Regions from separate parts of the Homo sapiens genome. Here region 2 is linked to region 1. The links come from fine-mapping of genetic effects on gene expression. Tissue or cell type: cerebellum. Region 1 holds a variant in brackets; the other region holds the start of a gene. All regions are shown on one strand. Distances are between the middles of the regions.

Evidence for each region. PIP is the estimated chance that this variant, and not a neighbour inherited with it, causes the effect.
Region 2: it holds the start of RETREG1, and the variant in region 1 is fine-mapped to the expression of RETREG1 in cerebellum (GTEx, PIP 0.92).

What each region holds. Positions count from the first base shown.
Region 1 is chr5:16,571,450-16,579,631 of GRCh38, forward strand. RETREG1 (reticulophagy regulator 1) reads right to left here. Exons shown (of 9, transcript NM_001034850.3): 2 at 547-653. Among named protein-coding and RNA genes, the nearest start is that of RETREG1-AS1, 40 kb to the right of the region's middle. RefSeq lists an enhancer at 3,674-4,238. The variant C/G (reference allele first, on the strand shown) is at 4,132.
Region 2 is chr5:16,613,738-16,621,919 of GRCh38, forward strand. It overlaps RETREG1 (reticulophagy regulator 1), which reads right to left and starts at 3,260. Exons shown (of 9, transcript NM_001034850.3): 1 at 2,915-3,260. The coding sequence starts at 3,234. RETREG1-AS1 (RETREG1 antisense RNA 1) reads left to right here and starts at 2,189. Exons shown (of 4, transcript NR_109946.1): 1 at 2,189-2,749; 2 at 8,041-8,182. RefSeq lists a silencer at 3,014-3,503.

The sequences.
Region 1 (8,182 bases):
ACTTGAGTCAGATTTGTAATACAGTTAAATTACCCAAAAAGCACCTCAGGCCAATTTTTTTTTTTTTTAAACCAAGCTCTTGCTTTTAAACTTAATGTTAAAATTTATTCATTTTTTATTATCAACTCATTTTTTAAAATTATTTAACCATCGCTTGCTTTTAAACCCTGAATTAGTTGTTTTTCTTCATTGAGGCAGAGAAAATTTTTACATAAACTAGTCCATTTTCCAGTGGCCCAGTTTCATCATGTGAGATGTAATAAATATTTAACTGTTATCCTCACTGCAGCCTACTTAAATACCAACGTGGTATTTAAAATAGCTCTTAAGACCAAGAGAAAAACCAGCACACACAAACCTTTTACCTACAAGCAGTAGCTACAAAGACAGCACCACCTCAATAAATTATCGTATTGAAAACAGCTAAGTCAATGCCTATATTTGCTTCTGTTCAAAGGACTAATTGGCTAATATGCCTACACAAAGATCAGAAATGCAGGGTCTAGAAAATTAAATACCATATAAATAAAATCTGAGTATTCTTACCTCTTGTTCTAGACAAAACCATATCCTTTATTATTTGCATAATAACACGCCCAAGTATCATGACGGAAATCAGGTGATATACTCTCCATGGAGTCAATGCAAGGAACCTGCAACAGCGAAACACAAATCAGTATTTCAATTTGAGGATTTTTAACCTTTTCAAAATTGGGTTTACTTCCTGCCACAGAAACAAAAAAGGTATTCAATAATGATTTCACTTTTTTTTTTTTTTTTTGAGACAGAGTCTCGCTCTGTTGCCCAGGCTGGAGTGCAGTGGCACTACCTCGGCTCACTGCAACCTCTGCCTCCCTGGTTCAAGTGATTCTCCTGCCTCAGCTTCGCAAGTAGCTGGGATTATAGGCATGAGCCACCACGCCAAGCTCATTTTTGTATTTTTAGTAGAGACAGGGTTTCGCCATGTTGGCCAGGCTCATCACGAACTCCTGTCCTCAAGCGATCCACCCACCTCGGCCTCCCAAAGTGCTAGGATTACAGGCGTGAGCCACTGTGCCTGGCATGATTTCACTTTCCAAAATCACCCCAGTGTGACTGCATGAAAGTTATTTAATAGGCATCAAAGTCAGCAAAATGAAAGTGTCTGAGCCTGCGCGCTTTTGTGCTAAGCTTTCTGCTCTACCCTCCAATTTCGGGCAGAGGATTTGCTATCTCAGGCATAGACCAAAATATTGCTCCTAGTGCTGGGCTTCTCCAATAGCCGATGGAGAATGGAAGTGACCTGAAACAGAGTTAGGATGGGCTGCAGAGCCAAGCTGCAGGGCTCTCTAACAGACACGGATGGGCTGCACTACAGAGGCCCTTTAGTCACCACCCTGTCTTGTGTTTTCATTTACGCCCTATTCACTTCTCTAACTACTCCCACCCTCGTCTCTTAAAAACAGCAGTTATTGGCCGGGCGTGGTGGCTCACACCTGTAATCCCAGCATTTTGGGAGGCCGAGGCAGGCGGATCACAAGGTCAAGAGATTGAGACCATCCTGGCCAACATGGTGAAACCCCGTCTCTACTAAAAATACAAAAGTTAGCCAGGCATGGTGGCGTGCGCCTGCAGTCCCAGCTACTCCGAGTCTGAAGCAGGAGAATCACTTGAACCTGGGAGGCGGAGGTTGCAGTGAGCCAAGATCGCACCACTGCACTCCAGCCTGGTGAGAGAGTGAGATTCTGTCTCAAAAAAAAAAAAAAAAAAAAAAAAAAAAAGCAGTTATTGAAGATCCACTTTGCTAACTCTTTCGCTTTAAGATCATGCTCCCCTTTTGCTACCTGTCTACCTCCTCTCTGCAGGGAAACAAACTAAAAATTATTGACCGTGAGCAGCACACAAACCCTGCAGTGCTTTTTTTGGGTGTGTTTGTAAAGAAATCACAAAGAGCGTTGAGCCTTCACATGAGATTAGAGGTCTGTTTACACAAGTTAATTGGCCAAGCTGCCAATGAATATTAACTTTGATAGAATCAGAACTCATAGAAAAATTAATTTAATAAATGTTTAAGACTGTTTGCAAGGCTATAAAGAGAAGTAAAGAACACACGAATACTGCCTTCTGCAAACTTGCTTTCTCATCAGACAAACACAGGCCAAGCTCACAAAGTCCAAGGCAGGCAAGGCTTAGGTGTTGTCACAGAAATGTGCAGAGAACAAGGAGAGGCACAGGGAGAGGGAGGATGGATTCGCTCCAAAGCAGGGAATGGTTTTTTTTTTTTAATTGGTTTTTTGGGTTTGTTTGTTTTTTGTTTTTTTTTTTTTTTTTTTGAGATGGAGTTTCACTCTTGCCACCCAGGCTGGAGTGCAGTGGCACGATCTTGGCTCACTGCAACCTTCTCCTCTCAGGTTCAAGCAATTCTCCTGCCTCAGCCGCCCAAGTAGCTGGAAATATAGGTGTCTGCCACCACGCCCAGCTAATTTATTTGTATTTTTAGTACAGACAGGGTTTCACCGTGTTGGCCAGGCTGGTCTCAAACTCCTGACTTCAGGTGATCCGCCGGCCTTGGCCTCCCAAAGTGCTGGGATTACAGGCACAAGCCACAACGCCCGGCTGGGAAGTTTTTATAGAAGCGGCACTTAACTGGGTCTGGGGAGGTGGATGCAACTCAGATGAAAATAGAGGCTCCTCCAATTAGAGAATACAACATGAACCAAAGATCAGACTCAGGAAAGGGTGAGGTACCTGTGGCACATCAAGTAATCTGGGGTGCCTCAGCAGGAAGAGAAAGCAAAAGAAGAGGGTTCAGAGACTGGCAGAGAGACAAGATTGGGGAGATAGGATCAGGGAAGACTGTGTCAAGCAGAATGCGCAGTAAGTCTTATGCTACAAACAATAGAGAGAAAGTCAAAGGTATAGAGCAGGGAAGTGAAATGATGGGTGATTTAGGGAAATGTCTGAGGGCAACAGGAAGGATGTGACGGGGTAGGGAGGAAGCATGGAGTCCAGACCACCTACTAGAAGGTCATGCAGTATGTTTGGTGAAAAGCAGATCAACATGAGATGCTGGGTGACGTGGTGGGTAGAGCCCTCCACCAGAAGGTGGCCAACCCAAGCTCTCACTGGTTCAAATGCTGTTTGTATGGCCTGGGCCAGCAAAATGAGCAGGTGGACTAGGTCAGTGTTTCTTAAATAACAGTCTGCAACTGCTGCCAGGTTGGCTGCCTGGAAAACTTGTTAAAATGTAGATTCCCAGGCCCCAGGCTCCTCCTCCCAGGCCCCCTGAAACAGGTGGTTTGATTACTAGTATTTGCATCTAATAAATATTTATTGATTGCCTAATTGCACCAAGCACTGTGCTACCAAAAGGGAGTGGTGAATTAGGAGCATAGAAAGATGGAACAGACATAAAAGACACAAGTTACAGAATAAAATGCCGCAGTCCATGTCTTTAGCAACAATCATTTGTTCCTCCACTAAATTTGTCCCTCCCCTAAGGAGCCACCACTTGCTCTATTTTTGTAGCTCTTGTTTGTTTTAAGCAAGGTTGCATTCTGGTGTTTGCTTGGTTTGGGGCCAGCCTCCTCACTCTCAATTCAGGATTCATTCTTGCTCTTGTTCATGTGCTGGGTGCTCCCAGTTTTCCCGACCTCACGTTGAAGTGGCAGATTTCATAGTGACCCACAATAAGAAACTCATTTATATTTACATACATATAAATGAAAAACAAGTTTTGAAAAATATTTTCCTTACAATTCATAATGCAGTTCAACTTTTTCCATTCAATTCTATTACGCGTTTAAATGCTGACTGTGAATCACTCGCCTGACTCAGGGCCCACTAATGAGCTGTAATGCGCAGCTCGGCTCACATGGCATGAGACAGAACCTGCAAATGTTCGAACAGCATGCTTCCTTAGAATGGCTTTCTTTGCAGGGTCAGGCAAAGCCCTAGCACAGACAGAAAGCTCCCTCAAGTTTAAAAGTCTTTGGAGCTGGCCAGGAAGCCATTTAAGCATCTTTTCAAAACCAATGAAATGCAAAACCAACCAAAGCACAAAGGCCATTAGTTATTCTCTTAGTGGAAGTTACAAACTTCCAAGAATAATAAAAAAGAAAATTAGGTAATGCCAGGACTGCAACCCACAGG[C/G]CTGGCTGCCAGACTTCATTTGGAAGGCATTGCCACAGCAACTCCAAAGAGCACTCGGGATGTCTGTCTATTCTGTCCTGGGCAAGGGCCCAGTTGGCATATTGGCCAAGGTCTTGTTGGTCATCGAGAATCCTCGGTCCACTGAGAAGACAAGCCCAGCAATTGCTTAGCAAGGTAATGCCAAACTGTATGGGACTACATATTTGATTCTTTGGTGGGTTAGTGTCATATAAACATGTTTGAGAAACGAAACCCTAAGAGAATAATCTGTATTTAGAAAAATCTGAGCACTTTTGGTACTTTAATTATTTATAATGTTTAAGATGATTTGTCTCAGGGCTCCACTTCAAAATATGTAGCTGAGTAATTTAGACTTGTGATTGGAAATTTAAAATCTTACAAACATGAGTTTATTCTTTAGTTTATTCATTTTTCAAGTAGTACCTAATATTTGGGAGGGTTTGTGTTATTAGATGAAGGAATTTTTAAAAAGTTTTTGTTTTGGTAAACTTCAAACGTACACAAAAAGAGAGGCCAGAGTGTAATAAACCCGGTTTCAACAATTCTCCATTCATGGGTAATCTTGTTTCTTCCATATTCCCACCCACTAAGCTCATCCTTCCCCCGAAATTATTTGAAGCAAATCCCAAACATCATGTAATTTAATCTGCAAATACTGCCATTTATCTTCAAAAACAAGATTTTTTCTTTTTCTTTTTTTTTTTTTTTTTGAGATGGAGTCTTGCTCTGTCGCCAGGCTGGAGGGCAGTGGCGCAATCTTGGCTCAGTGCAACCTCCACCTCCTGGGTTCAAGCAATTCTCCTGCCTCAGCCTCCTGAGTAGCTGAGACTACAGGTGCACGCCACCATGCCCAGCTAGTTTTTGTATCTTTATTTTTTATTTATTTATTTTTTTATTTTTTGAGACGGAGTTTCGCTCTTGTTGCCCAGGCTGGAGTGCAATGGCACGATCTCGGCTCACCGCAACCTCCGCCTCCCAGGTTCAAGCAATTCCCCTGCCTCAGCCTCCCGAGTAGCTGGGATTACAGGCATGTACCAACACGCCCGGCTAATTTTGTATTTTTAGTAGAGACGGGGTCTCTCCATGTTGAGGCTGGTCTCGAACTCCTGACCTCAGGTGATCCACCTGCCTCGGCCTCCCGAAGTGCTAGGATTACAGGCACGAGCCACCGCGCCCGGCCAATGTTTGTATCTTTAGTAGAGATGGGGTTTCACCATGTTGGCCAGGATGGTCTCGATCTCTTAACCTTGTGATCCCCCCGCCTCCACCTCCCAAAGTCCTGGGATTATAGGCAGGAGCCACCGCGCCTGGCCAAAAACAAGATATTTTTAACCAAATAACAATACCACCATCACATCTAAAAAATTACTTTAATTCTTAATGTCATCGAATATCCCATCAAGGTTCATATTTCCCCACTCATTTTTGTGTGCACGCACACACACACACACACACACAGACTGAAACAGGATCTGAGAAAGTCATCTGCTGAAATTGGCAGATGTGGATTTTAAGTGTCCTGGACCCTTATAGGTCCCTTGCTGTCAGGTTCATTTCTCCAATAAAGTTTTCCAGCTTCTGGGAATCGTTTGTTGTATCCTTGTGATTTGGTTTAACATTTTCCTTGATCTTTTGTGTAGCCTATAAGTTGGCACGTGGATCTAGAGGCTTGATAAGACTTAGGTTTGTTTTTTTTTTTTTTCCCTCTAAAACCCAAAGATAGGTGGTAGTGCCTGTTTCCATCAAGAGACACGCAGACTGTCTGGATGTCTTGGTGGCTACACTTGCACTATTGGCAGCCACAGACAATCCCTGTCTAGTGGCTGATTCCTCAGAGGCTACAAGGGGTGACGGCCCTTCACTCCTGCTTCGAGTAATAGCTGGATCACAGTTATAACGAGAAACTTCCCCTCATCAATGTCCAATTACACTGAGAGGTGGAGCTCGTCGGAAAGGCAGCATCAGTTCTTGAGTTCTTCCCTTTATTTTACCGGTTTTTTCAAGATAGTGAAGCAGTTCCCTAGTGTCCTCTAAAGGTAACTGATATGGTTTGGCTGTGTCCCCACCCAGATCTCATCTTGAATTGTAGCTCTCCTAATTCTCATGTGTTGTGGGAGGGACCCAATGGGAGACAATTGAATCACAGGGGCGGTTTCTCCCATACTGTTCTCGTGGGAGTGAGTAAGTCTCACGAGATCTGATGGTTTTGTCAGGGGAAACCCCTTTTGCTTAGCTCTCATTCTCTCTTGCCTGCCACGATGTAAGACGTGTCTTTCACCTTCCACCATGATTGTGAGGCCTCCTCAGCCACGTGGAACTGTGAGTCCATGAAGCCTCTTTTTCTTTATAAATTACCGAGTGTCGAGTATGTCTTTATCAGCAGCGTGAAAACAGACTCATACGTTTTCTTATTCCTTTTTTTCCTGTTATTATGAACTCAAGAGTTTGAACATATTTGACGTGTTTCAGTCACTGCAGAGTTATCCTTACTGATGCTCCAGCTACCCCGTCTTATTCAGGTCGCCTCTCAGGTCTTTGGCACAACCTTAGTTATTCTGATAATAAAGTACTTCAAAGGGATATAGAAAATATAACATTTACAAATGCAGTTTAAAATGTTCAAAGGAATATAACTCAACTTTCTAACAAAACTAATCACTTAATAAAGCAATCATTTATTATTTAATGAAACAGTCAGACTCTCTTGAACACGGTTACAATTTGCTAGATTTATAAACAAAATAATGTTTTGTTAGCTAAAATGGAAAGCTCAAAGAAAAATGAGTTTTAAGTTTGTAATTTTATAAAATCAAAATTTTTCTTTAAAAAGTAATTGAACAAAATTGTTTCTAACCGATCTTTACATGGAAACTGGCCTGTAAGGACATCAAAAAACAATCCCCATCTGCTGGGCGTGGGCGATCCTGACACTGGCACGCTGTGGCATCACTCAGAGAAGGACTGTCACAGAATCACAGAGCTGGAAGGAGCTCAGAGGTCATCTGATTTACTTTCATCTGATCCACAAATCCCCTCAGCTGCAATCAACCACCTCTACTTAAATAGATCTCATGCCAGGAAGCTCAACATTTCTTGCAGCATTCAATTTCCGGCAGCATCCTATTATTACTGGGGGAGGCAGGGAATTCTGTTTTCATTCCATTCACAGCATCTGTCACACACTGGGCTAGCTGCTGGGAAAACACTGGTGACTAAATCCCAGCCTTCCCCCTGCAAAGCCAGGAAAGCAGACAGGTAAACAACTGTGTTTAACCAAAGTGCTATTCAGGATGCTGTGGGGGCAGAAAACAGAGCCAGTAACTACATAAAGCAGCCAGAGAAAGCTCTAGAGAAGGTGGCATCTAAACTTTGACTTCGAAAGACATCTGATTTGGCCAGGTAGAAAAGAGACCAATGCATTCCAGGCTGGGGAACAGGGTACCCAAAGGGAACCGCAAGAGAGCCACAAGACTAGAGCCTGAATTAGAGAGGTTACCCTTAACCTTTGTCTCCTCCACTCTGAGGCACAAGTTATGAATTCCAGAACCAAATGCAGGATAAATAGCACAGCTGATTTTCAGTGAGCACAGGACTGTTCTAAGAGCTTTATATGGAGTCACTCATTGAATCCTGTATCCCTTCAGGAAGGGATCGTCATTAAACCTATTTTACAGAAGAGCAAAGAGGCTCAGAAACTTGCTCAAGGCCCCAAGACAAAGGAGACGCAGGACCAGGACATGAATCCAGGCAGCCTGGCTCTAAGCCAGCTCTTGCCATTCTGCTAAACGGCTGCTGGACACAAGTGTCTGCCTCTTAATCTGCCTGCTCCCACATGAAAAGAGCTGGAAGGACTGGCACCAATTTACAGCCTTTTCTTTTTTTATATATTTTAGAGCAGTTTTTAGAGCATTCTATGGGTTTTGACAAATGCATAATGACATATATCCACCATTATAGTATCATACAGAATAGTTTTCTGGCCGTAAAAGTCCCCTGTCCTCCATCTATTCATCCCTGTCTCGCCCAAGCT
Region 2 (8,182 bases), 42 kb after region 1:
CAGTTTTAAAATTGATCTTTTTTTCTCATAGAAAATACAGTGCTTTAGAGTTCCCAAGACACAGAAGGTTAGAGTATCACATAATTTAAGATCATTTGAGAAGAAATACATTATTTAAAGAAAACGTAATGTCCTTGAAAATCATTTTAACCCCCAGAGCAACAAATAAAAGGGAAAAAAAAACAAAATTTTAATGACATTAATAAATGGGTCATAAATTCCAATGAATTATAATGCAAAAGCAACAAGTAATTCTGAACTTAAAGAACAGGACAGTCATTTTTGTCAAAGAAAATACATGCATGGAATGCAGATGCCACAAACAGGAGATGAAATAAAACAGATAAGGAGAAGGCTGTATCTAGGCTGAATGGCTGGCCAATGTTTTCCTCTCCGTCAGTATAAATAAAATGGATGGAAGAAAACACCCCTGGATACTATCAAATATGCCTTTCAATTATTTTATGCAAAAACATTATTTTCAATAGGTGTCATTAAAGAAAACATCATAGAAAAAAGTTTGCAACTCATGTTACAGAAATTAGGCTAAAGTCTTTAATATAAAAACAGCTCCTATAAATCAATAAGGAAAAGAACACTGGCCTACTTGAAAAAATAGACAAAGGTTATTTATAAACAAACAATGCTGATAAATGGTAAATGTGGTAGTTCTTAAACATAAGATAAAATGCTCAATCACAGAGAACTGCAAAATAAAATCATTTTGGGATAGTCTTTTTCACCTATCAGATTTGCAGGATCAAAAAGTTTCATAAAATATTCTTCGCAAGAGTGTGGCAAAGCAGGCAGTCATACACATTGCTGGTGGGAGTATAAATTGTTAGAACCCTAAGGAGCTGCATGCAATATGGTGACAGCCATCAAAATTACAAGTGCACATGCCCTCTGACCCAGCAATTCCACTTCTGGGAAGTTCTCTAAAATACTTGCATATATGCAAAATGATGCATGTACAGGGTCATTAGCTATAATGCTGAAATAGCAAAAGCTTGGAAACATTACTGCCTCAGTAGGAGACAGGTTAAGTAATTTGAGACATCCTTACAATAGAATTCTGAAGCAGCTGAAAAAGAACAAGGAAGCAATCACCAAGAAATACTAGGAAAAGGAAGAGCTCATATGTTATTCCACAATTTGCATAGAATATGGTGTATTTGCTGAAATGTGCACTATCTGGAAAGAGACACAGGAAACTAGCAACATTGCTGGCCTCCGTGAGGAAACTGGGCGGCCAGGGACTGGGATGAGAAAGAGATTTTCAAAATGCTTACCCTTTTGTACCTTTAAACTTTTGCACTGTGAGACTGTATTAGTTTTTTAAAGAAATAAAATTTAAAATTAAGAAATAAAATGTTAAGGCCGGGCGCAGTAGCTCACGCTTGTAATCCCAGCACTTTGGGAGGCCGAGGCGGACGGATCACGAGGTCAGGAGATCGAGACCATCCTGGCTAACACGGTGAAACCCCGTCTCTACTAAAAAAAATACAAAAAACTGGCCAGGCGTGGTGGCGGGCGCCTGTAGTCCCAGCTACTCGGGAGGCTGAGGCAGGAGAATGGCGTGAACCCGGGAGGCAGAGCTTGCAGCGAGCCGAGATCGCGCCACTGCACTCCAGCCTGGGCGACAGAGTGAGACTCCATCTCAAAAAAAAAAAAAAAAGAAAGAAAGAAAGAAAAGAAAAAGAAATAAAATGTTAAAAACATCGTAAACATTAGTGAGACACAGCCCTAAGACTATTAGACTATTGCCCAATCTAGCATAAGACAATATGTCCTTCTTATTTGAGTGCTCGCATTCACTCCATAATAAGATAGATTTGGAATAAACTCTATTCCAAACACAGATACCTAAGAGATCCAAAGTTAATTCACTTTCAGGGACCTCCGACAAGATACAGCTAGTTTTAAGAGAAAACACCAGGACTAGCAGAGATCTGAGGAAAATATTCATCTTGCTCAAGTTAACCTAGAAAATGACAGGCTGTCTATTTTGTGCAATTTATTTATTTCTCAACTTTAAGGTTCAGAAATCTCTGTCCTGTAACAAGGTATCTGTTACCGGAGTCTGATTATTCTGCACTGTGTAGGTCATGTTTGTTATGAGGACACTTAGCAAACAAAGAAGGTTTTTCTCCGCCCTCAATAGCGTGGTAACGGATGACAGGACACCACTTTCAACGAAGGAGACAGACATTTCCCTGGCCTTTCTGAAGAGCGCTTTTTGGAGAGACAAACCTGTTGCTCAGGGGCTGAGCATTCCCGTGTGTTCTCCCTGTACTTCACCTAAAAATATGCCTGTTTTCCACACTGTGCACACCCGGGGGTGGGTGCTGGGCATACTCCACCTGCTTGTTTGCCTCCCGTTTTCTCATCAGGGAGTAAACACAGTAAACCTAACGCTCCAGGGGAAGGAAAAAACAAATCATTCAGGGCCCATCTCAGGTGACTGATGAATGCGGCACCGTTTTGAACGGGTACCTAATCTGGTCCAGATATGCCTGCTGGGGCTGCAAGAACCAAGACACGTTCAAGCACGTTTGCTCCGGCAAGCTTGGGCGAGCAGGTCAAGACCTCAGAGTTTTAGAAAGCAGGGGCGAAGTTTTCAAGCACGATGGGAACACCTGTAGGTGCAGGTGCCTGAGGGTCGGCCGACCACCTCGCATCTGAGGCTGGATCCGCACACGGAGAACGACAACTGCTCACAGGGACGTGCGTCCGGAGGAAAGTTGCGGTGAGTGTCTACCTGTTCGAGACAGGTGGCCGAGAAAGTGGGGCAGGGCTGACAATTCTTCCTCCGCAGTGTCCCGCGGGCTCCCCCTGCACTGGGTCCCCGGGGCCCCGGGCGCCCCAAGGTCACCTGCCCTCCTCAGCGCCCCCACCTTGCCCAAGCTCTCACCAGAACAGCAGGTTGGCAGCGACGAAGCCGAGCAGGCTCCGCAGCGGCCTCTTCCAGCTCAGCAGCTCGTCGGCGCGGCAGCCCAGCCACAGCACCGGCTCCCCGAGCAGCCAGGTTACCGCGGCCGCCGCCCGGCCCGCGGCCTCCTCCACCTGCAACCCCGCGCCCTCCGCCGCCCCAGCTTCCTGCGCTTCCTCCTCCTGCTGCTGCCGCTCTGCGGGGGATGCCTGGGGCGGTGGCGGCGACGGCGGCGCCTGCTCCTCGGCGGCAGGAGCCGGGCATCCCTCCTCGGCGTGCTCCGGAGGCGCCGGGCTCGCCATCTTCAGCTGTGCTTCCAGACAGGGACGGGGCCGGGCGCGCGCGCGGGCGCGCCTGGGTGTGGGTGCCGCCGAGGGCGGGGCGGCGGTGGCGGCAGGTCCCGGAGCGGGGCGCGCACCGCGGGGCACAGGCGGCTGGGGGCCTTGTGACGCCACAGGCCACGGAGGGGGAGCCGCCCGGGAAAGTGGGTGCGGCCGAGTTCGCGCAGGGGCGGGGCCGGGCGCCGGGAGCTGGGCGGTGTCCCCGGGGGGCTCTGGGTTCCTGGAGGGCCTCTCCGGGACTCGAGGAAAACGACCTTTTCCCTTGCAGCGGCGGGAGAGGGCGAAGTGGAGGACTGCTGCTCGGTTCCGTATCCAAAAGAGACCCAAGGCTCCAGGCAAAATAGATTGGACATTTTCACTTTCTCAAGCCAGGGCCACCGGTCGCCCAACCAGCAGCCACTGAGGGTGGTATCGGGGCGCCCCTTCCCCTGGCAGCGTATTTCAGCCCCCAGAGACATCCCCCACCTCGGCCATCCCCAGCGCCTTTGCAGGGACAGCAGCACAACCATAGCAGAGGTCCTGGGCATCCTGGAAATAACGTGCTGGTATAAATGTTGGATTGAGAAAGGAAGAAAAAACATTTGGGGTCAATTTGGGGCCCTCTCGTTTGACACGGGAGGAAACACAAGGCCGCAGCGTTGGGGGAAGCTGCTTCCTTTCTCTCTCTTCTTTCTCTCTGTCTCAGGTGCTTCCTTTCTCTTCTCTGTCTCTCTCTCTCTCTCTGCCTCTCCCTCTCTCTCCCCCGTCTCTCCCCCTATCTTCCCCTCTCTCCTCCTATCTCCCCCTCTCTCCCCCTCCTTGTGGCTAGGTGATCTGGCTCAGAAGTGCACGTTGGCCCGCGCGTGCGGGGAGCTGAGAAGCAAGAGATTGGAACTTTGCACGTGTCAAGCAAGGTTTGGCCTGCTTTGAAGACAGTAATTTCAGAGCCACTCCGGTCTCTGCGTCACAAGCGGGCATCAGGGCAGTGGTGGGGCGGCAGGGGATCCTGAGACCTCCCATGCCCTCTCTTTGGCCCCGGTGCTTCTGGGTGAGTGTGGGGAGAGAGGAAAATAGTTGTTTATGCTTTTCACCATTTGCATTTTTAAATTTTTGTCTTCTTTAATCTTCCTGGTCTTACTTTTACTCTAGAATGACAGGTCCTTCCCCCCCATACTAAGGGTTCTGTCTGCGGATGCATCAGGGCATCTCATATCCCTTTACTGGCAACCAGCCTGCCTGCACAGGATGGAAGGGAGGGCAATTAAATTCCCTGCGTCAAGGGAGTCTCTAGGGGAATGTTCTGTAACGCTCCTCTGGGTGGCCATTGTAAACCTCTGTGTATACACACGTGGAATCCATTGATCTGTACATTCACTGCAGGTGTCTGCACTTTACTGCTTGTATGTTGTACTTCAAAGGAGTTATATTCCCAGAGCCCAGGCAAAGGCTTACTGAGCACCTACCGAGTACACAAAGCATTGCTAAGCTCTGTGGATGCAGCTTCCACCCACAGGAAGCTCCCAGTCTGATGAGGGCCCAGTTACAATTGTGATATCTGCCACAGCGAAGAAGCCTTCGCTAAGTGCTAAGAGATTCCTTACTTAAACTGTGCATCCAAAATTAGGGGAGGAGTGGAGGGATCAGGTTTCAAGAGCGTTTTGTAATAAATGGCCTCTGCCCTAAATTGTAGGGCCCCCATTAGTGTGGGGATTGGGGACAGGGGCAATAACTGCTGTTGGGAATTCAACAGGAGAGGAGGCATGGGGTTGCAGGTGGAGACGCACAGTTCCTTAAGTAACTCACCAAAGGGAATAGTGGACATTGAATGGTCTCTAGTAACAGGAGGCTTGGTTTTTAACTAAAGGTGATACAGAACATCTGGCATTTCCGACTCCCCTTCTTAGGAGTATCCTGACAACCCGATGGAAAGTGGCCTGGGTGTCAAGGAAAAAGCAACGTGGAAACAATTCAGGTTTCTTCCATATAAGAGAGACAATCTTTTCCCAGGTGTGGGTCCTCCCTCTTGGCAGTAGCGGAGAAGTTTTTGAAAGATAAATGATGCTTTTATTGTGTCATTTGGCCTTTGTTTGGCGCTTGATACAGCCCAGGGTTTGCTATTCTAAAATCTGTCACTAGACAGATGTGTGCTGCAGCCAGTGTGGAGAACATGGGGCAGGAGAGAGGAAGAACCAGGTGTCCCCGTTCCCCAGACCAGTGCTGATGTGCTACCAGAAATGGGTTTGCAAGATTAATCACCTTCCTCCTGCTTCCCTTGAATTCTAATTATTGTTGTCAGGATCTGTTGAAGTAGTAAAAGCTGCTGGCAACCAAGACACATAAAAGCTAAGCTCCAGTTGCTGTGTGTGGTTTCCAACACTTATTTATTATCTCTGTTTAATAATAAACCTCCTTCCCCACAGCTATGTGTTGTAAAGTCTATCCTTTCTCTCTCTCTCAAAATTACTATGGAGAAAATGCTATGCAACCTGTTTTGCATAAAAGGCTGGGCTAATTAACCTTTCCTTTTCACCTCCGACCTCTAATACTTACAAACTGTATGACAGAAGTAGACACTGGCATAGACATACAAATGGTGCTGCTGGGTGGGATTTTGTTGTTGTTTTGTTGTTTGTCTAATGATCTTTGTGATGCTTGAGTAATTTATTCAGGGCTAAGATTACAGAAACATAATGCTAACAATGGTTGAAATCAACCTTGTCCCCTAGTTTTAAGAACACGCCACATTCTTGAACTCCTGCAAGTAATCTTACTAAGATTCTCTTCTGAAATTTTATTGCTATATATTAGGAACAGAGTGATTAACACTAGTGAGCTAGATGATTTGACAATATATATCTGAGAAAAGGAAACTGGAAACGTGTCTGAGAAAAAAAAAAGTTCTAGCTACTGAATGAGAGTTTAGAAAATGAGACAGCTCCAGTAAAGAAAGTCCAAATGCACATAAGAACTCTCTAACAGAGGCCACTCACTTTTCTCATCTAAGAGTATGTGGAAAGCTTGTAATAGGAGAGGAAAAATTATGAATAATTAATTCCCACTATAGGAAGTCTCCTAGGGCAAAATCAAGCTAAGACTTAGAATGATGGGGAAAAGCCCCCTAGTCATAATATTTTGGGGAAATTTCTTTTCTCTACAATATTATATATTAGAATCTTACAGTAGCTCCATGATTCCTTAAACAAAAGGAGGCTCGTTGATATGGTTTGGCTCTGTGTCCCCACCCACATCTCACCTTGAATTGTAATAATCCCCACGTGTCAAGGGTGGGACCAGGTGTAGGTAATTGAATCATGGGTGCGGTTTCCCCCATGCTGTTCTCGTGATATTGAGTGCTTGCAAGATCTGATGGCTTTATAAGGGGGCTTCTCCCTTCACTCAGCACTCATTCTCTCTCCTGCCACCCTGTGAAGAGATGCCTTCCGCCGTGATTGTAAGTTTCCTGAGACCTTCCCAGCCATGCGGAACTGTGAGTCAATTAAACCTCTTTTCTTTATAAATTACCCACTCTCAAGTGTTTCCTCATAGCAGCATGAGAATGAACTAATACACTTGTGTATATGTTGTATCGTTTATTAGCCTGCAGATAGAATTTTTTTTGTGTTGGTACTTTTATTAAACTAATTCTACCCTCCTCCCCTTGCTATATCCTCTGCTCCTTATTCCTAAGTTTCCATAATTTTCTTCTCACTAAGAAAACCTGGATAGTTCACTCTAAGCACAGATAAATAAGAGTATCATACAGCATCAGCAGGCACAGAGCAATTGGAAAGGAAGGAAGATCATCTCCCGGGTCTCTAACCTGGCTTCCAAGGCCCAGCCCAGTGCCTGGCTCACAGAAGGAATTCACTATTTCTACTTATGTTGAATGTCTGTTGTGCATATACAGACGGAAATATTCAAACTAGCATAGTCTGTGTTTGACAAGCATTCCATAAGGGATGTGCTTACCAGAAAGATGGTGGCCAAGATGTTGGCCACCCAGATATCAGTTGGGGTATTGCTCCCTAATACCTAAAAGAAGTTTTTTTTTTAAGGCTTCAAAATGGTTAACTGAAAAGAACGGAGGTCACATGACAACATGAGTATATCCCCCAAGGAAGCCTACCTGTCTATCCCCAGGTACACACACAAACACACGCACACCTATGATCCACAGGGGTGACTGCAGGACATTAACTTCCAACCCCTTCCCAACAGGAATCTGAACCAGCAGACAAAGCACTGTCGGGTCCTTGCTGCAACCTCTTCCCCCCACCCCCTTTGATGGTCCTGGTTCTGCATCATTGTACTTGCGTATCATTCACTCATTATTTCATTGCTTCATTCACTAGTCATCAGCCATTCCTGAAAGACTGACTGTGGGCTTCTGGTAAGATGAACAGGACTGCTTATTTCTCTCATGGTGCTTAGAGTATAGACAATGGATAAAGACCCTGAAGAAGGCGCTGGGCAAAGGGAATGGGGAAGCATGGTGTGCACAGTCTGGAAGCAGGAGAGGAGCCAGCCTGGCCCTGGTTGGAAACCTGGAGGAGATCTAAGCTGGAGGATGGGGTGGGAGGAGCAGGAGGCTACTCACAGTGGGGCTCCTCCTGTATGATGCTAGAAGCTTCTGCTTTGTCCTGAGAGCAACAGGGAGCCATGGGTGGGCTTGCAGCAGGACACAGAGGGGCTAGCCTGTGTTTTAGAAAGGTATCTCCAGACCATGGAGGATATAAAGCCTGGCAGAGGGAAGGCACTCTCAGAGACTTTTCCCTTGTCATTCTCTAGAATGAGGGAGGAGAAGGAGCCAGTCTGGAAGGGAGGCTGACAAGTTTCATTTTTAAAAATTGATCTGCACTTGGATATCTCTGGAGATGCCAGTAAGGTTGTTGGGTACAGAGGTCTGCAGCTCAGAGACCAGCAGGCATCC